Linked DNA regions of Homo sapiens. The protein of the gene in region 4 purifies or fractionates together with the protein of the main gene of each other region. This does not show direct contact. Each region holds a gene or a part of one and is shown on either strand. Other genes may lie near its edges. The genes, in order: POLD3, HAT1, LPAR1, MAP2K3, HNRNPUL1, PDAP1 and HPN.

Region 1 (3,500 bases), on a different chromosome or scaffold from region 4:
CTGGTAGCTCAGTTTGGGGCAGTAGCAGTGCAGGTAGTAATTAGTGGATGAATTCTGGGTATATTTTAAAGTGAGAAACAACAGGATTTGCTGATATACTGTGTTGAAGTGTAAGAGAAAGAAGAGTCAAAAATGACTGGACTAGGCAACCCAAAGAAGGAAGCTGTAATTCACTGAGATGGGGGAAAAGCAGGAAAAGCAGGTGTTGAGGGGAGAAGTCAGGAGTTAGGTTTGGGGGCATATTAAATTTGCAATGCCTATTAGTCACTGTTGATGTTGAAAAGGTTGCTAGAGAGTCTTGTCTGAAACATAATTCCTTGTTATAAAGCTTTCAGTAGCGCCAGGTGTGGTGGCTCACGCCTGTAATCCCAGCTCTCAGGGAGGCAGAAGCAGGAGGATAGCTTGAGCACAGGAGTTCAAGACCTGACTGGGCAATATAGCGAGACCCCATGTTCCACAAAAAGGGAGGAGAAAAAAAAAAGTGTAACAAAGCTTTCAGTAGCTTCTCATCCCCTAAGGATCAACTTCAAATCTCTAGCAATGACAGGTAAGACCCTTCTTGTTCTGGGCTCTGTATCTCTGACCATTCCCCATCATACCTACACTATCTTCATCCTTAATGAAACATTCTACAATTCTCTTTATTCCTTTGTATATGCCCTTCCTTCTGCCTAGAAGGCTCTTCTCAGGCCTCAACTACCTAATTTCTCATCAAGACAGCAGCTCAGTTGTCACCTCCTCTATGAAGTATGAACCCTTCCCCAACACCATCAGGTCACCAGGGCACATCTTTTTTTTAAGAGATAGAGTCTCACTCTGTCGCCCAGGCTGAAGTGCAGTGGCGCAGCTCTCTATAACCTTGAATTCCTGGGCTCAAGCCATCCTCCTTCCTCAGCCTCCTAAGTAAACAGGACCACAGGTGCATGCTACCATGCCTGGTTATTATTTTTTCTTCCTGGTAGAAACAGGCTTTTGTTATATCTCCCAGCCTGACCTCGAACCCCTGCGCTCAAGTGATCCTCCTGCCTTGGCCTCTCAAAATGCTAGGATTACAGGAGTGAGCCATCATGCCTAGACAATGAGCTTCTGCCATCCAAGCTCTAACAAATTTTATCCCATATCTATTATTACAGCACATATCACCCTGCCTTCTAACTATTTATTTTACATATGACGCATCCCCTCTAGACTGTTAACACCTTGAGTACAAAAAGGTGCCCTAGTCAGGATTTTTGCTGATTCCTCCTCTTTGCCCTCTAATGTTTCTTTCCATTACAACAATTGTGTTAGAAGGATAAATGAGCTAACAGATCCACAAACATTTTGGTTTATTGATGCTAGTTTGGACCATGCTAAAGGAAGACATGATAGGCAGGTACCATGCCCAAAATGCTTGCAAGCTTGCTGGCCAAATGCACTATCTTTTATCCACAACTAATAGTCCTGCCCATATCATCAGTCATTGTCCTCTATGCACTTGTCTCCCCAAATTGACCCCAGTTCTTCTCTCTTATATTAACAGAAAATGCAAAGCAAACTCTTATTTTAAAAAACAATTCTTGTGGCTGGGTGCGGTGGCTCACACCTGTAATCCCAGCACTTTGGGAGGCCAAGGCAGGCAGATCACCTGAGGTTGAGAGTTTGAGACCAGCCTAACCAACATAGAGAAACCTCGTCTCTATTAAAAATACAAAATTAGCCGGGCACATGGTGGCGCATGCCCGTAATCCCAGTTACTCGGGAGGCTGAAGCAGGAGAATCGCTTGAACCTGGGAGACAGAGGTTGCAGTGAGCTGGGATCGTGCCATCACACTCCAGCCTGGACAACAAGAGCAAAATCCTATCTCAAAAAAAAAAAAAAAAAAAAAAAAGGAAAGAATTCCTGCCTACTTTTTGAGTCTTTAAAACATGTTTTATCTAATTTAAGCCAAACTTTTCTGTTTTTTTGGAGATAGAGTATCGCTCTGTCGCCAGGCTGGAGTGCAGTGGCGCGATCTCAGCTCACTGCCATGTCTGCCTCCTAGGTTCAAGTGATTTTCCTGCCTCAGCCTCCCAAGTAGCTGGGACTACAGGCACACGCTGGCTAATTTTTTGTATTTTAGTATTTTTGTATTTCAGTAGCGCCAGGTGTGGTGGCTCACGCCTGTAATCCCAGCTCTCAGGGAGGCAGAAGCAGGAGGATAGCTTGAGCCTGGTCTCAAACTCCTGAGCTCAGGCAATCTGCCCTCCTCGGCCTCCCAAAGTGCTAGGATTACAGGCATTAGTCACCGCGCCCAGCCTAAGCCAAATATTTTTTAATAAACAAAATATAAAATATTCTTAAATAAGAATGACAACAGGCTGGGCACAGTGGCTCATGCCTGTAATCCCAGCATGTTAGGAGGCCGAGGCAGGCGGATCACGAGGTCAGGAGTTCAAGACCAGCTGGCCAGCATGGTGAAACCCCATCTCTACTAAACATACAAGAAGTTAGCCAGGCGTGGTGGCATGTGCCTGTAGTCCCAGCTACTCGGGAGGCTGAGGCAGGAGAATTGCTTGAATTCTAAAGGCGGAGGTTGCAGTGAGCCGAGATTGCACCATTGTACTCCAGCCTGGGCAACAGAGCTGTCTCAAAAAAAAAAAAAATAATAATAATAACAACATATATGACTTCTTACAAGATACACTTCCTACACATGATTAATTATAGCTTCCCATTTTAATTCATTAATCTTCCCTCCTGATCAGTTCCACCCATAATGTTCCCCAGGATGAGTACAGTGTATTGCCCATACCGCTTTCTCTAACCCAACTTAATTATTTCACAGCATTTTCACAGTCTGAAATTATCTTGTTTAAATCAACCAGGGGAGGGACCCTGTCTGTCAGGTTTACTGTTGTATGACATAGCCTGAAATAATGCTAAAAAAAAACAGTATGAGGCCAGGCACGGTGGCTCAAGCCTGTACTCCCAGCACTTTGGGAGGCCGAGGTGGGCAGATTGCGAGGTCAGGGGTTCAAGACCAGCCTGGCCAAGATCGTGAAACCCTGTCTCTACTAAAAATACAAAAATTAGCCAGGCGTGGTGGCAGGTGCTGTAATCCCCACTATTCAGGAGGCTGAAGCAGGAGAATCGTTTGAACCTGGAAGGTGGAGGTTGCAGTGAGCTGAGTTCCGCCACTGCACTCCGGCCTAGGCAACAGAGCGAGACTCCGTCAAAAAAAAAAAAAAAAATTACTTGAGAGAAATGTTTGTGAAAATACTATAGTGAGGCCGAGCATGGTGGCTCATGCCTATAATCTCAGCACTTTGGGAGGCTGAGGCAGGAGGACTGCTTGAGTCCAGACGTTCAAGACCAGCCTGGTCAACACAGCAAGATCCCAACTCTACGAAATAAAAAAATCAGCTAGCATGGTGGCATGTACCTGTGGTCCCAGCTACTCTCAGGAGACTGAGGTGGGAGTATCCCTTAAGCCTAGGAGGTCATGGCTAAAGGAAGCCATGTTTGAACTACTGCACTC
Region 2 (3,500 bases), on a different chromosome or scaffold from region 4:
TTGATGTTGTTTCACTTATGTATTTATTTGGGCAGGGAGTTGGGGTATGGATAGGTTGGGAAGGTAATATTTTCTGACTTCCTGGAAGGGAACCTGAGTTGAACCTGAAAAAATGAGTACTATCTGGCCAGGCAATTAGGAAAAGGGAGTATTTCAGGTAAAGAGAACAGAATATGTAAAGGAATACAGAAGGAAGAAGGATGTGGCAGAGTTGGGAAATGGCTAGAAGATGAGTAAAGCCAGAGCATGTGGCAAAGTAGCCAGAGCATGTGGCAAAGTACTAACAGGCTGAAGCTAGCAAGGTAGGCAGGGTCCAGATTATCATGGGCTCTTTGTGCTCTAGGTAGGGAGTTTGAATTCTTTTTTTAAGAAAGCACCATTAAAAAAAAAAAAAAAAAAAAAATATATATATATATATATATATATATATATATATTCATATGCCTGTTCTTTTAAAAGCTGAGCTATTAAACAAATTTCTTTTCTTTTTTTTTTTTTTAAGATGAAGTCTCTCTCTGTTGCCCAGGCTGGAGTGTAGTGGCATGATCTCGGCTCACTGCAACCTCCGCCTCCCAGGTTTAAGCGATTCTTCTGCCTCAGCCTCCTGAGTAGCTGGGATTACAGGCACGCGCCACCACGCCCAGCTAATTTTCGTATTTGTAGTAGAGACATGGTTTCACCATATTGGACAGGCTGGTCTCGAACTCCTGACCTCGTGATCCACCCAAAGTGCTGGGATTACAGGCGTGAGCCACCTCGCCCGGCCTACACAAATTTCTTTTTTTTTTGAGATGGAGTCTCGCTCGGTCGCCCAGGCTGGAGTGCAGTGGCACCATCTCAGCTCACTGCAACCTCCGCCTCCCCAGGTTCAAGCAATTCTCCTGCCTCAGCCTACCGAGTAGCTGGGACTACAGGCGCATGCCACCATGACCAGCTTTTTTGTATTTTTAGTAGAGGTGGGGTTTCACCATGTTAGCCAGGATGGTGTCAATGTCCTGACCTCATGATCTGTCCGCCTCGGCCTCCCAAAGTGCTGGGATTACAGGCGTGAGCCACCACTCCCAGCCCATCTCACATACTTTCATAATCCAAATCCTACTCATTCTTCAAGGTTTATATCAAATGCCATCCTTTCTATGAAATAACCACTGATTTCCTTGCTTACATAAATGTAATAAACTTTCTTCTCTGAACTTCCATATTTATTTTTTCTGTACCTATCTTAAGACATTTACCACTTTAAAATTTAAATAAATATATAAAAGTATATAAAATGAAATACGTGTTTTACTTCAACCATTCTTCCCACCAATAATGTCTCCAGGGGTACAACTACTTTAAAGAGTAAAAATAAGATCCTATTATCCATCTTTCCTCTGCTTGTTATGCTTAATATAGCAATAACACCTATTATCTTCCCATTTTATTAATGAGGAAACTGAGGCACGAGGTAAATTAAATTGCCATAAATCACAGAGCAAGTGTTGGAGCTAGATTTGAACTCAGGCAATTTGGCTTCAAAGCTGTACTGTTAACCATTGCTAGTTCCCACACATGTATTCTTAATGTCTTTATAATATTTTAGTTAAGGTATACACTTCAAAAATTTGTTTGTAATTTAAATCTGTTTTCCTCCTACAGAATAAAAATACCTTATTTATTTTGAACTTCTGTTGTGCCTCTATCACCATATCTTCATTGAATCCTTGCATTAATTTTTCCCGGGAAAAACAGGGCAAATCTTGACAAAGCTTCACAAGCACAAAGTCTCGTAATTTCACATAGCTTTTGGATGGATCTTCCGCTAAATAAATAAAGCAGAATAATATTAACATTTCCCTGATACTCAATATAATTTCTTCATCTTTTGCAATCTCAACATATATGCTAGGCTGCTCAGGAGGCTGAGGCCTGAGAATCGCTTGAGCCTGGGAGGTGGAGGTTCTACCACTGCACTCCAGCCTGGGTGACAGAGCGAGACTCTGTCTAAAAGAAGAAAAGAAAAAAGACATCAAATCAATATAACCTAAGAGTCACTCTTAACTAGATAAGGAAGGGCAAATTAAACCCAAAGTAATAAGAAGCAATAATAATAATAGAGTAGAAATCAATGAAAAAGAAAACAAAAATAGACAAGTTCACATAAACACAAAGTTGGTTCTTTGAAATGATCGATGAATTGACAAACTTTTAGTTAGAATGACTGAAAAAAAAGAGAGAAAACAACATTTACCAAAATCAGGCATGAAAGAAGGGATATTCCTACCAACTTTACAAAAATCACAAGAATTAAAAGGGAATATGCCATGAACTTTATGCCAACAAATGAGACAATTTAGATGAAACAGACAGCTTTTAGAAAGAAATTACCAAAATGACTCAAAAAGTAAATGACTATGTGAACTGACTATAACAGAGACATTTAATTACCAACTAAAAATCTTCCCACAAAGACAAGTCTACAACCAGATGGCTTTACTGGTAAATTCCATGAAACAACCTGAAGAAGACATAACGATGATCCTTCACAAACTATTCTAGAAAATAGAGGAAACAGGCCAGGCACAGTGGCTCACACCTGTAATCCCAGCACTTTGGAAGGCTGAGGCGGGCGGATCACCTGAGGTCAGGAGTTTGAGACCAGCCTGGCCAACATGGTGAAACTCCATCTCTACTAAAAATATAAAAATTAGCCATGAGTGGTGGCGCAGGCCTGTAGTCCCAGCTACTTGGGAGGCTGAGGCAGAAGAATCGCTTGAACCTGGGAGGCAGAGGTTGCAGTGAGCCAAGGTGGTACCACTGCACTCCTGCCTGGGCAACAGAGTGAGACTCCATCTCCATTAAAAAAAAAAAAAAAAGAAAGAAAATAGAGGAAACACTTTCCAACTCATTCTATGAGGCCAGAGTTATGCTGACACTAAGGATCTAAGACAAAAACTACAAATCAATATCCCTCATGAATGTAGATACAAATGTCCTCAACAAATATTAGCAAACCAAATCTGGCAATATATAAAATGAATTACATACCAGAACTAAATGGGATTTATATCAGAAATGCAAAGTTGGTTTAACATCCAAAAAAAATCAATTAATGTAATATACCATGTTAACAAAATAAATGAGAAAAATTCAATACATGCAGAACAAAGCGTTTGACAAAATCCAACATCAATTCATGATAAAAACGCTCAATAATCAACTATCTAGAAATAGAAGGGAACTGCCTCAATTTCATAATTAACACATATGAAAGCTATAGCTAACATCATCCACAATGGTGAAAGACCAAATGCTTTCCCTCTAAAACTGGGAGCAAGGCATAGATGTCTGCTTTCACCATTGCCAGTCACCATTATATTGGAGTTCTCAGCTAAGCAATCGGGTAAGAAAAAGAAAGAAAATGCATCTGACTGCAAAGGAAGAGGTAAAAATGTCTTTATTTACAGACAATGTGATCCTGTATGTGGAAAATTCTAACCAAAAAACTACTGCAACTA
Region 3 (3,500 bases), on a different chromosome or scaffold from region 4:
AAATTGAAATGAGTATAATTTAAAAGAATCATAATGGCTTAGAAAAAAGAAAACTAAGAATAAACTTGTCTTTTTTCTATCTTGCATGCAAAAAGGCATGCCAATAAAATTATCTAAGGTGAAAATAAATTCTTAATTAGAAAAAGACTTTTTTTTTTTTTTACCAAGTAAAGGACAAACTTGTACTGCATCCTACTTTTTAGTAGGCAACTAAAGCTTAAAATTATTTGATCAGACTTTTAAAACCTCTATGACAAACCTTTACGAGTTTCTCAAAGCGTGGTCTTTAGGCTACTGAAATTTCCAAAGTTCTTCTGGAAGGTTTACCTTTTATATGACAGCAATATGAGACTCACTGCCACTAGTCCTACAGTAAATTAAAACTATATCTGCAACTTCCCCCAGACGTCAAATCACCATCTAATTATTGTAAGGATTTTTTTCCAGATAACAATAGCTGGAATGGGGTGTTTCAGGGATTTTTTGTTCACCCCAGTGGGTATTGTTGAAATTTGCACCATTTCCTTCCTATCTCCCCAGGACCACCTATCAAGAGAAGCCATAGTAAACGCTCAACAAATGCTTGATAACCGATAAAACTACTTTAATCTGCTAAAGAAAAATAACCTAAAGAATTGAAATAAGCCTTGTCCTTGTTAAAATATATCAATCTTTTCACTCTAAAAGTGCTCTCCAGCTTATCACACACATTTTACTGGCATTTACTTCTACATTTAGCAATTATGCCTGAATACTGCCAACTGACTTCTCAGCTAAACTTCAAACTCAAATTGCCAGCCACCAGCTGAAAATCTCTGCCTGCATGGTTTTAGACATGTCTAAAACTAACAAGCCTCACTGCAACAATCATCATGCTCTCGTGTCCTGTCTGGTAATGGCATCAACATGCCCTTTTTTGTCCACAGTAGTCTCCAGTACCCTTCTACCTCCACAAGCTTCGAGATTGGTCCCACCACTTCCTGCCACAAACCGTCAATTTCAGGCACTCCTCCCCAAGCCTGTCACTCACTGGGTCTTCCTCATTACTCTTCTGCATGGAATGAGCTCCACAGACCATTGAGGCTGGCATCCTGCTGCAAGTCATTTCCCTCCTCTAAGGCTGACTTACCCTCTCCATCCTCAGATATGCAGACAGCTCTTTGTTTGAAACTTGGTTTACCGTATTCATCACTACCTACCTGATCTTAATCATTTGAGTCCATATCGCTCCATGTTCATGAGCTACTCAAGAGCGGGGACCGTACTTTCTTAATTTTTTTTTAATTTTAGTGTCCTCAGGCCAGGCACGGTGGCTTGGGCCTGTAAACCCAGCACTTTGAGAGGCCGAGGCGGGTGGTTCACTTGAGGCCAGGAGTTCAAGACCAGCCTGGCCAACACAGTGAAACCCCATCTCTACCAAAAAATACAAAAAAAATTAGCCAGGCATGGTGGTGCACGCCTGTGGTCCCAGCTACTTGGAAGGCTGAGGCAAGAGAATTGCTTGAACCCAGGAGGCAGTGAGCCAAGATCGTGCCATTGCACTCCAGCCTGGGCAATAAAGTGAGGCTCTGCCTCAAAAAAAAAAAAAAAAAAAAAAAAATTTAGTGTCCTCAGCCAAACGTAAGGACACAGAAGTTCTCCAAGATATCAGCTGCATGAAACTAAACTGACAGCGTCTCAAAGTGACCAGAGAACAGATTGTGCTAAATCTGGAAAAGTCAGTCATCTTGCCCTAGCCTTTGAACCTTTACTTTTCTGTGCCTAGTCAGAAAGTAAAGCAAGCAGTTCTCTGTGGAACTACAATAAATAGTGGGTACAGAATGAATGCCTCACTTAGTTGACAATAATCCTTCTCCCCACAATCGTAGTCCAAGAAGGCAAAGCATCCCCTTAACAAAAGGCAATTCTGTTTCAGTTGTGTTATTCTCTTAGTAAGAACACACCATCCTTATCATCTGCTGATTACAGACTTCCAAGGCGGGGGTCCTCACTGAATACTCCTACAATGAAACCTGCCTATAATGAGTAACTCTACCTATCTTCTCTGCTCCAGAAGTGGTTGAAAGGCCTTTCATTCAGGCCTTGTTTTCTACCTAACAAAAGGTTCACAGATGCCAAACACGTGCTCCAAAATGCCCCTCCTCCCGTCGTCTGAGACCCAGATGAAGCAGGGTCCTTGTGGCAATAATATTCTCTGCAATGCTTTTTGTCGTCTTGGTTGTCACACAGCTGGAAATAGTTTTCTTATTCCCGTTTACAATAGCCAGACATTCATTATCACTCTGACAAGAACTCTTGAGTGATGTCATGCTGCACATGCTGCACCAGTTCAAGAAGGGCCCATGCAGGCTCTTCCAGCTTCAAACTTCTCACTCTTGATGGCAGCCTCAAGTATAGCCTCTCTAAAGCAAAAGAAAATGGAGGCAGGCACAGACAGATACACACACAAACATACATATGAGTATGTATAAACATATCCACACTTATCCCACACACACATAAATATACATAAATATTAATTTTTGTAGGTTTGTATAAGTAAAAGGACAACTATGGAAGGCTATGGAACAAACTGATATCAGATGGGTAAGGTTAAAGTGGCAGAGAGAGATTTTTACATTTACTTTAGACACATCTATAGTGTTTGAATCATTGCAAAAAAAAATTTTGTAAATGAATGCAGCTACCCTCTCCTGGTTGGGATGCATTTTATTGTGTTTGTATCCCTGAGTGACTTCAAGATCATAAGTGAAATACATTAGTGAAGCAAAGCACCATGACAGGGTGACTTCAAAATAAGTATTAGCCAGATGCGGTGGCTCACAGCTGTCATCCCAACACTTTGGGAGGCCAAGGTGAGAGGATCCCTTGAGCCCAGGAGTTTGAGAACAGCCTGGGTAATGTAGTGAGAGCCCATTTCTTTAAAAAAAAAAAAAGAAAAAAAAAAAGAAAAGAAAAAGAAAGAAGAAGAAAGAAAGAAAAAGAAAAAAAATAGCCAGGCATAGCGGCACACACCTGCGGTCCCAGCTACTTGGAAGGCTGTAGTGGGAGAATAGCTTGAGCCCAGGAGGTCAAAGCTGCCGTGAGCCAGGATTATGCCACTGCACTCCAAGACCCTATCTCAAATAAATAAAAAATAAGTCTGACTTTCTACAGGCACTAGGTTTGAATTATTCTAGAAAGCAAACTATATACTGAGCAAAGAATCTCAAACACAAGTTGGGTTAAAAGTAAGAATAGGGAAAATGAGATGGAAGCAAGGCAGGGCTACAGATAAAACACAGCTATGTCTATCTCTAGACTTTAAAACAGATAAATCCTAGCAAAATATTTCAAGCATATAAAATGAAAAGGAGATTACCGGGCTCTGTGGTCTCCTTCCTTAAAAGGGAAAGGCCAACTCACCTCAAAGTATTGAGACTACCTTGGAGAAAATGTTCCTAAAATGGAAGAATAACAAGATACATATGCCTGAGTTTGAAGGCATTCTAAAAGAACTT
Region 4 (3,500 bases):
CCCCAGACCACCCCTGTCCACCCTCTCAGTGACTCCACAAGGGAGTAGGGGAGGTTCACTTATCTGTTGTATCAAGCATGCGGGAGAAGAGGTGACTTAGAGAGGCCACACGGTGGGCGTCTGGTGAGGAGTGGCCATAAAGGCAGGTCTGTCTGGCTCCAACGTCCAAACAGCAACAGCCTGAGGGCAGGGCCCCCACTTCGGCTGCTCCCTCTACCCTGGGCCTGGGGAGACCAAGCTGTGTGACCCTCTAAGGGTCACCCACAGGGGCAAGATGACAACCCCTCCTTGCAGCCCCTGCTCCGCCTCCACTCATAAAGTCAGCCCCACACCATGCCACATGCAGGAGCATCACCAGGTTTCTGACAACAGAAGTAATCCCTGCTCCTAGTTCACTGCCCTCACCTGACTTCCGGATGTTCCAGGAGGTCCCTGTTCTACTGCAGAAGTTCTGGGCCTGCCAGGGAAGGAGCCACAAGGGCTGGGAGATGTGAGCAGCAAGAGGCGCCGCCCTGCCCCAGGCCACCTCTATTCCCCAGGGTCCCTCAGAGGGACAGCAACAAGGCCAATGCGCTCCATGGCACGGGGGAAACTGAGGCCCCGAGAAGTGGGCACAGGCTTTTGCGTGGGCAGATGTACCTCGACGGTGTGGATGGATGTGTTTGGCTGCGACCTGCCAGACACTGGCCCCTCTCCCCAGGACAGGTGCCATCAGAGGTCCTGAGGTACTGCAGACGCCACTGCCAAGCACCTGTGGGCAGCAGGGGGTGGCCATGCACCTTCAGGCAGGGCCCCTTGCCCTGAGGTTCTGGGGCCCCTGTCCTGGGCTCTGGAGAGGATGCAGGACAAGGGGAAGGTTCTCCCATCTAACCAAGTGCCTGCTCCATGCCAGGCCCAGGCTGTGCCATCTGGCCTCATACACGGCCACTGCAGGCCCTACCTTCTCTATCCTCACCTTGTAGGTGTGCAGCAGGCTAGGGTGAGGAGGAGTGACCAAGGCTCTGCCCTCCACAGCCCTGCCCTGCCTCTGCCCGGCTGTGCAAGGCCACCTGGCCAGGGCCTGGCCTCCAGGGCCTCACACCCTCCCCACCTCTCTACCCTACAGGGACTTCCTCACCTGCAGAGAACGGGGGATCCCCAGACTATCCACCTGGCAGCGCCCCCTCCCCGGTGATGCTCCGGACCAGCATGGCTCGGGAGCACCCCTAACATCCGGTGGGGAGGCCAGATGCTCAGCTGCACAGGGGCAACCATGGCTGCCAGAGGGTCCTCCCGCCCAATGCCAACAGCCCAGCAGAGACAACCATGGCCCGCCTGCAACATGGAACCACTTGTGCTTTGGAGGGAAGGACGTAGGGAAGGGCCAGAGGCACGGGCCTCGCTGGAGAGGGAAGGAGGCAACACGGGAGGACCCCGGGCAGAGTGGCTGGGGCACAAGGCACGTGAAAGACAGGGGGCCCACAGCAGGTGGCTGCGGGCATCAGGGTGCAGCCTGGCCTCCCATGGCCAGACCTCACCGGTCTGGGTCCTCCATGCCCCATGGCCATCAAAATGCCCATTCTTCTGCATCCAGAAATTCCACGTTGAGCAGCTTACCCCCACACTACAACACCCACTAACATTTAGTGAATACCTACTATGTGCTGGGGTGTCCTGGGGTGTCCTCTGCGTGCCTGGCCTATGCAAATTTCTTTCATTACATCTCATTTGATCCTCTCAGCAACCCCTTGAGGCAGGTACTAATGTGATCTCCATGCTGCAGATGGGGAAACTGAGGCCCAGGGTTTATAGAATCAAAAGGCTGGCACATGGAATTGGTGAGGATCCTGCAGGTCCTCAGCAGGATGCGAGGAGTGGCCTCCCAGGGACAGGAAGAGCCAAGAGCAGCAGGAGTACAGCAGTGTGAGAAAGAAAATGCCGGTCAGACCATGTGAGGTGGCTCACGCCTGTAATCCCAGCACTTTGGGAGGCCAAGGCAGAAGGATTACTTGAGGTCAGGAGTTTGAGACCAGCCTGGCCAACATGGTGAAACCCTGTCTCTACTAAAAATACAAAAATTAGCACATGCCTGTAATCCCAGCACTTTGGGAGGCCAAGGTGGGTGGATTCCTTGAGCTCAGGAGTTCAATACTAGCCTGGGCAACATGACAAAATCCTGTCTCTACAAAAAATAAAACAAAACAAAAATGTAGTGGGCGTGGTGGTGCGTGCCTGTAGTCCCAGTTACCTGGGAGGCTGAGGTGGGAGGATCGTCTGAGCTGTGGTGAGCCATGACTGTGCCACTGGGCAACAGAGCAAGACACTGTCTCAAAAAAAAAAAATGAGAAGAAGAAGGAAAGAAAATGCTGGAGTGTGCAGAGTATTCCGAGGAGAAACAAGAGACTGCCTTTTTGTCCCTTTGAGATTCCTGCACTGTGTGATAAAGGCTACTCAAGTGCAGGCAATTTAAAGAAAAGAAGAAACAAAGAGGCCTGCTTGAAGCCAGCCCCAGCACTCTCCTCTGTCTGAAGGGGCAGCCAGGCTCACTGAGCACAGTACAGCCCCCGCAGCAGGCTGCTCAGGCTGGAGGGTGCCCCAGAGACTGTCCAGTGCAGATGCTGACACCAGGGGCCCCAGGACACGCCTGAGGTGACGCACCAGGGCAGCAGCAGAGTCAGGCCCCCAGCCTGGGTCCCAGCTCCTGCCTTCCCCGCACCTCAGTGGAGAAACCACCACAGCGTCGGCCCGTGCCAGCCTGGGGGCGAGCCACACTCCCTCTCTGTGCAAGCCTCGGTTTCCTCCTTTGACGTCCTATGAACGGGTGAAGGGGCCATGACCTCTGGGAAAGGATGAGCAAGGGTCCGGAGTTGTAAAGACAAAGCCATGCTCCCAGGACAGTCCTTCGTGACCTTGAGCAGGTCACTATCCCACCAGGCCTCAGTTTACTCACTCCTAAGATGGGGTTGATGACAACACACCCAGGTTGCTGGGTAGCCGTGAAGACCAAACAAGTCCATGCACACAAAATCCCCAGCACAAAAGGGGTCAGATCGGTGGGACTCTGGCCCCAGGCTCCCACACTGTGGGGCAGGCCCCATGCTCAGGCTTTAAGAGGCCATGACAGGGCAGGGGGACCCACAAGTGATGCTCAGCCCTCCCAGAGCATCAGAAGAATGGGACATTCCTTGCACCAGGATCGTAGGCTGTGCTCCAAAGGTCCCCACGTGGGCCCGGCTCGAGGTCAGCAAGGCCATTGCCAGCCACCTGCACTGTCGACAGGCCAGTGCTGCTGCTCCTGCAGAACGGAAAACAAACCTGAACAAACGCCATCTGTGCTTCACTGTTATCACTACGTGTTGTGTTGTGTTGTGTTGTGTTGTGTTGTATTGTATTGTACTGTATTCTATTGTATTCTATTGTATTGTATTCTATTGTATTGTATTCTATTGTATTGTATTCTATTGTATTGATTGTATTGTATTTATTTTTGAGACGATTCTCTCTCTATTGCCCAGGCTGGA
Region 5 (2,958 bases), on a different chromosome or scaffold from region 4:
CCCCAGGCTCTCACAGCTGACCACTTGGTGCTGGCAGGTCTTTGTTCTCTCTGGAGTGGGAGCTCTGTGAGAACGGGGTCCAGGACTGCCGTGGCCATACTATGTCCCCAGCACTGTCCAGGACAGCTGAAGAACACAGCAGGTGGCTCACACACACTGGCTGAAACATGAAGCTCCTGGAATCCCCATGAGCCCCAAACACAGAACAGGCAGGAACTGTCCTCCGTGCTGCACACAGGCCAGGCCTGAGGCAGGTGGTCTGTGGATGCCCAGTGATGATGCCAAACAAACCAGCCCTGGTCTCTGCCCCATCAGTCCCACCCATCCCTCCACCTAGAGGCCTGTTCCATGTCCTTTACTCAAAAACTCCTGGAGGGATTTTAGACTGTGAGAGGTAGAGAACAAGAGAAGCACTTTAAAAATGAACTAGTGGATTTTAAACCAGGGACCCTTGTTTAAGCGTGCATTTTTAGCACCAAAATCGGGGCCAGGCACATGAATCCCTCAGTTAAGTTGTTTAATGAATGAGTAAATAATTTCCCTTTAAAGAGGCCCCCACCCCAATTAACGGCCAACTGCAGTAACACTTCAGGGTTTCAACCCTGCTTCCTTCCTGCTAGGAGGTGCCATGTCATTTATTCAAAGAAAACAAAACGAAACCAAACAAAACAGGGCAAACACATTTCTTAATAAGTGCAGTTTGTTAAAATCATGTTAAAACATATGAGTCAAGGGGAAGTAAAAATAAAGGGTATCACTGTAGGAAAAGCTTTTGGGTCTGGCACCTGGGAGACCACTGGAGAGGAGGCAGTGGGAGAAACTTCAAGTTCTGAAGGGAAGGAGCCCCCCAACCTCCCCTTCTTCCCTCTCACCCACTGAATCCCACCAGAAACTACCAAGACGCCCGGAATAAAAGGTTTCAAGTTCAATAGTCACTCTCTCCAAATACAAAAAGCAGTTACAATTCAACTGAACACAGAAGCTTGTGTGCAAAGTTATGGGGAACTGGGGCATCGTATAAAAAGTTGGGTTAAAGATGATTCTGTGGTTTGGTTTTGTTGTGTTTTGTTTTGTGGCTCTTCCTCAGTCACCTGAACTCAGGAAAGAAATGCTTATCTTGATGAAATATCAACAGCCCACCCACAGTAAAAAGACAAATTCTAAAAATTAAAAAAAAGCGCATAATTACCAAAAAAAAGTCACTGCTTCCTCCCCCTCCCCATTTTGCTTTTTAAACTTTTTTTTTTTTAAGTTTTGATTTTTTTTTTAATCCTGAAAAGTAGACAGTAAAACAGCTCCTGGGAGAATTTACAACCAACTGCATGAGGGTCTGGGAAGCTGAGGGGCTGGAGCAGGGTTGGGAGAGTGAACAGGAGGGGATTCTCCCCTCAGTCACTGTAGCCTCACTGTATGATCAAGGGAGGTGGGGATTATTTAGTCAAAAAGGAAGAAGGTAGGAAGAACAGGAGGTGGAAGGCTGGGGAGGTGGGGACAAACAGAAAATAAAAGGTCATTGTTGCCTGTTTGAATCCAGAAAAAAATGCCTGGCCCTATGGAGGGGAAGGAAGCCCCTCAGAGGGGAGGCAGTGGGCTGGAGGGAGGCAGCCCTGGGATGACCCCATCCCCAGCACCACGGGATCTGGCGGGGGCAGAGGAGGGGCCGAGGCAGGCGCTGGTGGAGGAAGCCGGCAGGGGCCTCCGGGAGCCTCTGGGTCACACTGGCTACTGTGTACTTGTGCCACCCTGTGTGTTCCCGGAGTAGCTCCCGTAGTCGTAGTTCCCGTAGTATGGCGGCCACTGGCCCTGGTTCTGATAGTACTGGTTCCACTGCTGGGCATACTGGGGAAAGAAACCAAGAACACCAAGTTGTCCTGCATCCACCACACATTTAGCCTCCCCACCAGCCCCACCCTCACCTAGGGCAGAGACAGCTGCAGTGACAACAGTTGAACACAGGTCCCCTGACAGAGAAATCAAGGCACCTTGGAAAGACCTGACACCACACAGGTAGGCAGTTAGGGACTGAAGCCCAGGTCTCAGCTTGTCAACCCAGTGCCTTTTGGGTATAGCTAGATATCATAGTCAAAAGATTTAGTAACAGGTATGGGGGCCTGGGCACCAACCTGCAGCAGGATTTGGAGCCCCCTGTCTATGGTGCTGAAAGAGGACTCTGAGGCCCCTGGTACTTAGGCCAGCCCTTCCCCTTCACTTGCTAGACTGTGGAGGGGGCTAGGATACCAATTACCTAGCAACCAGTGCAGAAGTGTTGACCAAATGGAATGGCTGCACCAGATGAACGCCAGGCCGAGGCCAGCAGGCTGTCTTTTTAGGGATAAGCAGGGACTTAAGTCTGGGAATACACACCCAGGAGGGGCCCATGGAAGTCTCTCCATCCAGTTGGCCCCCAGTCTGGCACCTACCTGCTGATACTGGTTATAGCTGGGCTGAGGGTAGGTCTGTGCAGTGGGGGGTGGCGGTGGGGTATAGGGGGCCGGGTTGTAACCGCCGTAGCTCCCATAGTTGTAGGCAGGTGGTGGTGGAGGTGGAGGCGGTGGGGCTGTGTAGCCCTGGCTGTAACCTCCCTGGTTGTAGGGTGGCTGGCTGTAACTCGGCTGGAAAGTGGAGGGAAAAAAGCCAAAGCTCTGTGAAATAGAGGAAATCTGCAGATGTGAAATGCTGGGATGGAAAAAGGGCCTTTTTAAGTGGTTGGCCCACAGGGGCCCTTCCCTTGCCTAGTGGACATTGTTTGTGGGCTGAGAAGGAGGAGAGCCAGCTCCATGCCATGGTAGGGCAGGATGAAGGGCAAGCCCCAGGGCTGTGATGTGGACTCTAACCCCAGCTCTGAGACCCCCAGGGAGCAAGGTACACGGCACTTCTTGAAATCTCAGTTTTCTTTTTTATAAAATGAGAATCACAATAGAACAAGAACAACTCCTTTAGCTTGCCCTGGGTATCCAA
Region 6 (3,500 bases), on a different chromosome or scaffold from region 4:
GGAGGCTGAGGCAGGCGGATTGCTTGAGCCCAGAAGTTCAAGGCTGCAGTGAGCTACAATTGCACCACTGCACTCCAGCCTGGGTGACAGAGTGAAATCCTATCTCTAAAAAATACAAACAAAAAAAGGAATGAAGAAGTGGAGGAAGCAGCCACAGGGCATAGGATGAGGACCACAGTGGGAAACAGACACACCCAGTCTCAGGTCAACACCACATGGCCCATTCTTAGAGCAGCTCAGATGTGCACGGTGCTGCCCCCCAAGGGGACAGCCCCCATCAGTAGGGAGATGGGAATAATTGCTGGGCTCCCATGGGACAAAGTGTCAGGAATGAACCCCCTAAGTAGAGTCAGTGGTGAGGGTCATTAGCTTCCTTTTGAGGATCTTCCCAAGCTTGAGATTCTGAACTGGAGTGGATGCCCTTCAGGATGAGATCGGAGGGCCTATTTGCACTGGGTTCCTGGAAGAGCCAAGTGCTGGAGGAGGGGAGGGCCCTGCCTGGCAGGAGGCTGGGAGAGAGACTCGGCCTCCCAGAGGCCTTCAAGGTACACAGAACTGGGGAGTAATGAGAAACCAGGCATGGGAGCTAGCTAGAGGGGAGGGAGAGGGACTCCCGAGTGGGAAGAGCAGATGCCTCACTACAGAGCTGAGGAGATAATACCTGGCGAACCGCAGATCCTAGCTCAGGAGGGATGTGCCACACTCAGAAGCCTCTAAGCTGAGCCTCAGGAATGATGACTAAGGCAGCCCAAAGACTCTGCAGGGCCCTTCAGTGAAAGCAAAATGCCAGGCAGGGTGTCTCTGCAACCCCAAAGGACAGAAGGAGGGAGCAACAGGATCCCTTTTACTGGAGAGGACACTGATGCCCAGAAAGGCACAGCCTTATCGAAGGCTGCACAGCTGCCAATGGCAGAATACCACAGTGGCAGAACACCCAGGTTGCTGGGTTTTTGAAGTCAATGCCAAGAGGAAGCTACTGAAGGGGGACAGAAGGGTCCTTAGCAGCTGCAATCACACCCAAGCTCATGGCCTTCCCCACGAGGCTTTCACAGACACACCCCTCAGCCATTATCCTAAATTCCCAGTCAGGAGAGAAACTAGCAGGCTTCAACCTCTTGTAAGGCCCTTGAGGTCACCTGGTGGCTGCCAAAAGTCAGGGCACCAGTCAAGGACTGATCCTGTGCCAGGCACTTCAGTACATGATCTTGATCCTCATACGACTCTTGAGGAAGATATTTACAGCTTCATTTTCACACAGGACTTGCAGAGGCCTGGGACAGCTGGCTGAGCTGCGCTGGGCTGGACTGCCTTCTGGCCGGCACAGGCTCGCAGCCCCCTTCCAGTCCCCATGGCCACGACATTACAGATGGATGCAGGTCAGGAATGGTCAGATCAGTGGGGTAAGGGAAGTCTCCCCAGGGTGTGGTGCTCTGGAAGAGGGGAATGGAGGGCAACCCTCTGTATCCTGCACCATTACCTCAAGTGTTATGCTCAGGTCTGAGCCTGTTGTCCTATTTCCCCTGATATCATGTATCAATTGGTGAAAACAAATTCTGTGTGGCTTTTTAAAGGCTACTGGAGGGCCATTGGGGAATGAGACAGAAATAAACAGCCACAGCTCCCAGCCAGCTGGGGACCTTAGCATCCCACAGGCCAACTGCTGGCCTGTATTCCCCGTGACACAAGGCCCAGCCAGTGATGTTACCGTTCTCTCCTCGAAAGCTCCTTTGGCCCGTCCAGATCCAGTTGTGTGACCTTTTTGGTTGTCTGTGCCACCCGGTTGGGGTTCTCGATGTCGATGAGCCCTTCAACGCCTTTGCGCTTTTGCTAGAACAGGGCAAGAAGCTGGTTGTTGGAGTTCAGGTCCTGTGGAGCCCCTGAGGGCCACTCCTGCCATCTCTCAACAGCCCATCTGGATGAGGACAAACTCCTGCTCCACCCCAGCCCACGTAGTGCTCAGCCCAAGTCTCACAGTGGGTATAGCTCTCTGGAGCATCTTCATCAGCCTGGGAAGAGCCCACAGAACGGCTGCTCGGGGTCGAATAACTTGCCCAAGTCAACCAGGAAGTAGGTGGTAGATGAGAGGTGCGCCCTACCCCGACTTGCAAGCACTCACACAGCACTACTCCCCTACTTCAAGCTCGGCTTCCAAAAGCAGTTTTCCATGGAATCCCATGCCTGATTCTTCTTGCAAAAAGCGCTGGGCTGGAATCCCCAGGGCAGGGTGGGCCAAGTGTGTGCTGTCATGACTAATTCCAATTCCCACCCACCTTAGCTGATGGACTGGACTTGTAACCCAAGAATAAGCTACTGGATCACACACTCTACAGGTTTGGGACGCTGGCCCAAAAACCTGGAATCTGCACCTTCCACCTCCCCTGCAGAAGTTCCAGAAGAAGGGGGTGTGTTCTCAATGCAGCAGGTTTGGTCAAAGTTTCAGGCCCTGTCAATTCCATCAATTCTCCTTAAGGGGGCAGGGAGACAGCTTCCACTCCACAGAGCTCCCTCCACACACTTCCAGTCCAGCTGCACACTTACACCTCCACTCAGATGCCTGGCACTGTAAACTTAACATGTCCAAGACAGAACTCGAGATTCATCCTTTACCCAACCGGACCCTCCCTGCAATCCTAAGCATATCCTTGATTCGTCGTTCCTTCAGCAACCCCCAAATACAGCTTAAATTTGTCCACTCTTCTCCACTGCCATTGTCACCATCCTAGGGCAAGCCACGATTTTTTTTCTTTTGAGACAGAGTTTCCCTCTTCTTGCCCAGGCTGGAGGGCAATGGCACAATCTCGGCTCACCACAACCTCGGTCTCCTGGGTTCAAGCAATTCTCCTGCCTCAGCCTGAGTATTTGGGATTACAGGCATGAACCACCACCCCCGACTAATTTTGTATTTTTAGTAGAGACAGGTTTTCTCCATGTTGGTCAGGCTGGTCTCGAAATCTCGACCTCAGGTGATCCGCCCGCCTTGGCCTCCCAAAGTGCTGGGATTACAGGTGTGAGCCACCACACCCGGCCCAGGATTTCTGATCTGAACACTGCTCTTACTCTCAACATCCTATCATTCACTCTCCATGAAGAAGCTAAAATAATCTTTTTTTTTTTTTTTTGAGACGGAGTCTCACTCTGTCGCCCAGGCTGGAGTGCAGTGGCATAGTCTTGGCTCACTGCACTCCGCCTCCCGGGTTCACGCCATTCTCCTGCCTCAGCCTCCCAAGTAGCTGGGACTACAGGCGCCTGCCACCACACCTGGCTAATTTTTGTATTTTTAGTAGAGACGGGGTTTCACTGTGTTAGCCAGGATGGTCTCGATCTCCTGACCTTGTGATCCACCCACCTTGGCTTCCCAAAGTAAAATAATCTTTTAAAAGCATATCTGGAGGCTGGGCGCAGTGGCTCACGCCTGTAATCCCAGCCCTTTGAGAGGCCAAGGCAGGCAGATCACGAGGTCAGGAGATTGAGACCATCCTGGCTGACATGGTGAAACGCTA
Region 7 (4,270 bases), on a different chromosome or scaffold from region 4:
ACTGCAAGGAATTGGCCAGCTCTTCCCCAAAACAGTCCCACCCCTGCCTGGTCCAGCTTGCACACCTCTTCTCCCACCCAGCTCAACTTCCAGCTTCACCTCCAGAAATACCACAATTGGCTACGTGCACACCAGTGCTGTGTCACCTCCCAGCTTCCCAGAGAAGAGCAAGAGCCTTGCTCTTCCCTCTGCCTGGCATCCTTGGAATTGCAACTCCAGTATCACCTCCTCCAATTCCAAGTTTCCAGGCAGCACCAAGAAGCCAGCAGCAATAACAGTGACACCAACAACAGCAGCCGCTGCAGCCACAACGGCTCTCTGAATCACACACGGACGCACCGCCCTACCCTAACCCCGTCCAGTCCTGCACAGCATCCTTACTTAAATCCTTGCAGCTGTTCACGAGGAAGGCGCCATTGCCATCACCCCCAGTTTACAGATGAGAAAAGGAGGCCCAAAGTCCGGCAGCCACCAAACCCGGGTCACCCGGCAAGTAAGTGCAGAATCGGAACCCTTCAGCATCTGTGTCCAGGTTCGACCTCCACACCCCTAGCCCTGACAGCAGGACTCCCCTCCAAGACCAGCCCGGAGCTGCCAGGGAGGCACCAGAGCCCACTTTGTGTCTGTTTCTCTTTGTACCCAGGCCATCTCTGTCCATTCGGGCATTTTCTGCTTTTCTTCCCTGGCTCATTCACCCATGGGCCCAAGCCCTGGGGCTGTCCTTCCGGCAGCTCCAGGAAAGAGATTGTCCCCAAGGAGCTGGATTCTGTCATCCACCTGCTCGGCTAGGGTGCAATGCCTTCTCCTGAGTAACTGGGAGCCTGGGTTCCCTCTGGACTGCAGCTGATTGGTTTGGGGTCTGAATTGCCAGCTGTGCCGAGACCCGAGGAGGCCAGAGATCTGAACTAATCATTTCAGCCAACACGCTCAGTGCTTCCTGCCCATCCTGGCATTTCAGGCCTCGCCCCACGCTGTTGGACATGCACTGTCACCCTCTCCATTTCACAGATGAGAGAATGGAGGCCCAGGGAGAACACGCCGTCTGCCCAGGGCCACACAGCTAGAAAGTGCTACTGCCCAGGACTGAGCCCGGCTATCCTGGTTGCGGAAGAAGAGAGGGAGTCAGCCCCAGCTAGGGGAAGGCAGAAAGAACAGGACGCCCCTCCATGCGCCCCTCCAGCTGGGTCCCATGTGTGAGAGGTAGAAAGGAAGCCAGGCTAGCTGGGGGCTGCCCAGAGACTCCCAAGGGCCAGCAACTCCATGACGCAGTCTCTCTCTCTCATCCTTATGGTGGTTTCTCTGCCGTCTCTCCCCTCTCCATCCATCCAGGCCCAGTCCAAAGTCCTCCCTCTGCTCTTTTGCCCACAGAGCCAGGAGGTGGAGGAATGTCTGGGATCGGTGGGGGTCCTGGGTCTCTGGGACTCCGAGTTTGCCAACCTCTGTCATGACAGCTCTGCTTGATGGCATGCGTCTTATATGCAGAGCCCCAGACCAGTGCCTGGTGTGTGTCATGCACTCAGCAACCTCACAGAGGGAGGACTGGTATCCATGCTTGACCCAGAGGGAGACCAAAGCCCTAAGAATAATGTCACTTGCACCAGATCACACAGCAAAAAAGATGGCAAGAGCAAATTCAAATGCAAGCCTGTGTGTTTCACTCCAAATCTGTGTCCTTAACCATGACAGCTACAGCTTCCCCGCCTCAGCCCCAGCAGAGGACAAGTCCAGAGTTAGCTGAGAAATCACTGGGGGATGAGGGGAAACTGAGGCAGCACGCCAGGAAGGTCACATAGGGTAGAAGGGAGGCTGGTGGTGGCACAGCTGCACAGAAAATGTGGTTAATAGTTAATCAGGTGGAGGAGGACTAACAGGGGTGGGGATGCATCTGGGAGGGGTGCCCAGAGAGAGGGGGCTCCGAAGAGTAGAGGGTAGAGAAAAGAGCACAGAGGGCGGGGCGCCAGGCAGAGCCAAAGCTGGGGCTCAGGGAAGGGGACTCACCCTCCTTCTGCGCCATGTCACTGCCTCTTGTTAATGATTCCCTGGCTGACCTCCTGGGCCAGGGTGGGACCTGTGAGGAGATGGACGGGGAGGCAGGGCCTGGGGGAGCCCAGCCCAGCCCAGTCCTGGCGCCCCCAGTCCCAGGCGTCCATCCAGGCAGGCTGTAGGGACTGGGCCTTGGCCAGAGCACGCCGTGATCACGGACGCAGATTGGGCTGGGTTCAAGGATGGGGTCAGTGTCTGACCAGCAGCGGGGGGACGCCTGGATTTGCAGGGATGGGGACCCCCATGCCTGAGCCTGGTGGAGCAGGGGACTGAGGATCCCGGTTTGAGGGAGGAGACAGCTGAGGACCTGAAATCATAAGTCTTGGGAAAGGAGGAATTTGGGGGCCAGGACTCCCTAGTATGAGGGAGGAGGGGCCTGAGGGCTGGAACTCCTGGGTCTGGGGAGGAAAGGACTGGGGTCCAACGGCTGAGTCTGAAGGAAGAGCAGGACAGAACACCTAGGTGCTTGGGGGGACGTCATAGTGCCCCCTCTTCAGGTCCCCAGGAACCCCTCTATTAGGAGGTGGGCATTAGGCTGGGTGGGGGGATGAGGGAACCCCTGTCCTCAGGGCTGGAACTGTGAGTCTGGGGGCCCTTGTCCTTACCCTGGGGTCCAGCAGGTGGGGGCGGAGCCTCGAGGTAGTGCCGGGGTCGGGTCAGTCTCCAGGCCTGGGCAGGAGCATGGTGGCCCCGCAGCAGCGGGCGGCCTGGAGGCAGAGGCGGTGGCGTGGGGCCTGCTAGGCCAGGCTGCCTCACCTGAGGAGGAGGGGGCTGGGCGAGGGGCGGGTGAAGGGGCGGGGAGGGGCCGGACCATTCGATTGGCAGCACTGGAGGCCACCTGGCTGATGGGGCCGGGCTTGTGGGGGCTGGACCAGGCGGGCCCAGCTACGGGGCTTGCCTTGGACCTCCAGGGGGACCCAGGTGTGCCTGTCTGCGGGGATGTGGGAACAGGGACAGGCCTGGCCGGAGGCTGGGGGTTTAGGGAGAAAGTGCAGGCTGAAGGGTGGGGGTCTGACCAGAAGAGATCAGATGGAGGGCCCCAGCTGCCCTAAGCCCACTCCACCCTCACCCAGCGAACCCTTCCCCCCGCCCTTTCTGCGTCCTCCAGCCCCAGGTCCTGGCTGTGCCCGCCACTTGCTGCACCTCTGCCTAATTCCCTGCCCAATTCCTGGGCCCCAACCCCAGCCCCAGCCTCTCCCGCCTGCCCTGCTCATCCTGCCCCGGCCCCTCCCCCGCTGGCTTCCTACAAGTCACGGGGCTGGTTTGCTTTGGCAGCCTCCGCCCGGCCGCGGTGACCTCTGGAGCCAGAAAGTCCTAGCACTAGATAGGGGGGATGGGGGGCTTGGCCGGGAAAACACAGCGCTAAGGGCAGAGGCCCAGGCCAAGTGGCCGGAAGCGTCCGCAGGCAGATAACACACTGTCCCGCCAGCAGCCAGGCGCGGCCCACGTCAGACCCAGGGCCAGGTAAACACCAGACGTGCAGGGTCACCGCCAGACACCTGCCCGTGCTCAACCACACGCCGGACACAGTCGGCCTCGGCTGCTTGCCCCAGATAGGCCACCCGCACAACCGGCCCCACCCGCTTACCCACACGTGCCCGCTGTGCCCAGCCAAACCCACCTCCACCGCACCCATTTCCTCCACTCAGCCCAGGGCCCCTCATTGGGACACGCTGGTTTAGCCTGGCTTCCTCTGCCTTTCCATCCATACCCGTCTCTCCTTCCCTCTCCTTCTCCCCAGCGCCCACCTCTCCAGAGACTCACACTGCTGGGCACACCACACACCCCATGCCACCCCTGCACCCCAGCATCAGCCTCGATTCTCTTCCCTCCACGGCACCCCCTCCCTTCCTGGCTCCGTTCCACTCTCCCTCACCCCTGAGCCCATGGCTCCCCCAACCCCGACACAGATCAGGCACTAAGTGGCTTCACCTGTGGGCCCTCAGGTAGGGTCCCTGGAAAGCGGGCTCGAAGATTCGGGGACGGGAATGGGGGGAAGGTGACGGGGCTCACAATCGAAACTATGCATCAAGTCCAAGAGTCTTTATTTCATGAACAAAACTACTTCTGTAAAGAGACGAGGCTGAATGGGCCCCTTTCTAGGTGGCCACAGTTCAAGGCTGGTGAGAGAGGGCGAGGTTGGGCCGGGGCAGGAGTGCATTACAGGGAGGGGGGACCCCAGGTCCAGCCGGAGGAAGCGGGAGGGGAAATGATGCCGGGGAGGGGG

The links.
Region 1: the proteins of MAP2K3 (region 4) and POLD3 purify together in Homo sapiens (tandem affinity purification; one large-scale study listed by IntAct). This does not show direct contact.
Region 2: the proteins of MAP2K3 (region 4) and HAT1 purify together in Homo sapiens (affinity purification with mass spectrometry; one large-scale study listed by BioGRID and IntAct). This does not show direct contact.
Region 3: the proteins of MAP2K3 (region 4) and LPAR1 purify together in Homo sapiens (co-immunoprecipitation; one large-scale study listed by IntAct). This does not show direct contact.
Region 5: the proteins of MAP2K3 (region 4) and HNRNPUL1 purify together in Homo sapiens (affinity purification with mass spectrometry, with the first as the bait; one large-scale study listed by BioGRID). This does not show direct contact.
Region 6: the proteins of MAP2K3 (region 4) and PDAP1 purify together in Homo sapiens (affinity purification with mass spectrometry; one large-scale study listed by BioGRID and IntAct). This does not show direct contact.
Region 7: the proteins of MAP2K3 (region 4) and HPN purify together in Homo sapiens (co-immunoprecipitation; one large-scale study listed by IntAct). This does not show direct contact.

Annotation. Positions count from the first base shown.
Region 1 is NC_000011.10:74,599,082-74,602,581, reverse strand, and holds part of POLD3 (DNA polymerase delta subunit 3), read right to left. Parts: intron 1-3,500. UniProt on the Homo sapiens protein: Accessory component of both the DNA polymerase delta complex and the DNA polymerase zeta complex.
Region 2 is NC_000002.12:171,974,461-171,977,960, reverse strand, and holds part of HAT1 (histone acetyltransferase type B catalytic subunit), read right to left. Parts: intron 1,805-3,500; coding exon 1,653-1,804; intron 1,270-1,652; exon of another isoform or gene 503-1,269; intron 1-502. UniProt on the Homo sapiens protein: Histone acetyltransferase that plays a role in different biological processes including cell cycle progression, glucose metabolism, histone production or DNA damage repair. Coordinates histone production and acetylation via H4 promoter binding.
Region 3 is NC_000009.12:111,028,471-111,031,970, forward strand, and holds part of LPAR1 (lysophosphatidic acid receptor 1), read right to left. Parts: intron 1-3,500.
Region 4 is NC_000017.11:21,291,211-21,294,710, reverse strand, and holds part of MAP2K3 (dual specificity mitogen-activated protein kinase kinase 3), read right to left. Parts: intron 1-3,500. UniProt on the Homo sapiens protein: Dual specificity kinase. Is activated by cytokines and environmental stress in vivo. Catalyzes the concomitant phosphorylation of a threonine and a tyrosine residue in the MAP kinase p38.
Region 5 is NC_000019.10:41,305,330-41,308,287, reverse strand, and holds the end of HNRNPUL1 (heterogeneous nuclear ribonucleoprotein U-like protein 1), read right to left. Parts: intron 2,643-2,958; coding exon of another isoform or gene 2,613-2,642; coding exon 2,421-2,612; intron 1,840-2,420; coding exon 1,723-1,839; 3' UTR 501-1,722; downstream 1-500.
Region 6 is NC_000007.14:99,398,598-99,402,097, forward strand, and holds part of PDAP1 (28 kDa heat- and acid-stable phosphoprotein), read right to left. Parts: intron 1,828-3,500; coding exon 1,706-1,827; intron 1-1,705. UniProt on the Homo sapiens protein: Enhances PDGFA-stimulated cell growth in fibroblasts, but inhibits the mitogenic effect of PDGFB.
Region 7 is NC_000019.10:35,040,251-35,044,520, reverse strand, and holds the start of HPN (serine protease hepsin precursor), read right to left. Parts: upstream 2,801-4,270; 5' UTR 2,649-2,800; exon of another isoform or gene 2,069-2,648; 5' UTR 2,015-2,068; coding exon 1,999-2,014; intron 1-1,998. UniProt on the Homo sapiens protein: Serine protease that cleaves extracellular substrates, and contributes to the proteolytic processing of growth factors, such as HGF and MST1/HGFL. Plays a role in cell growth and maintenance of cell morphology.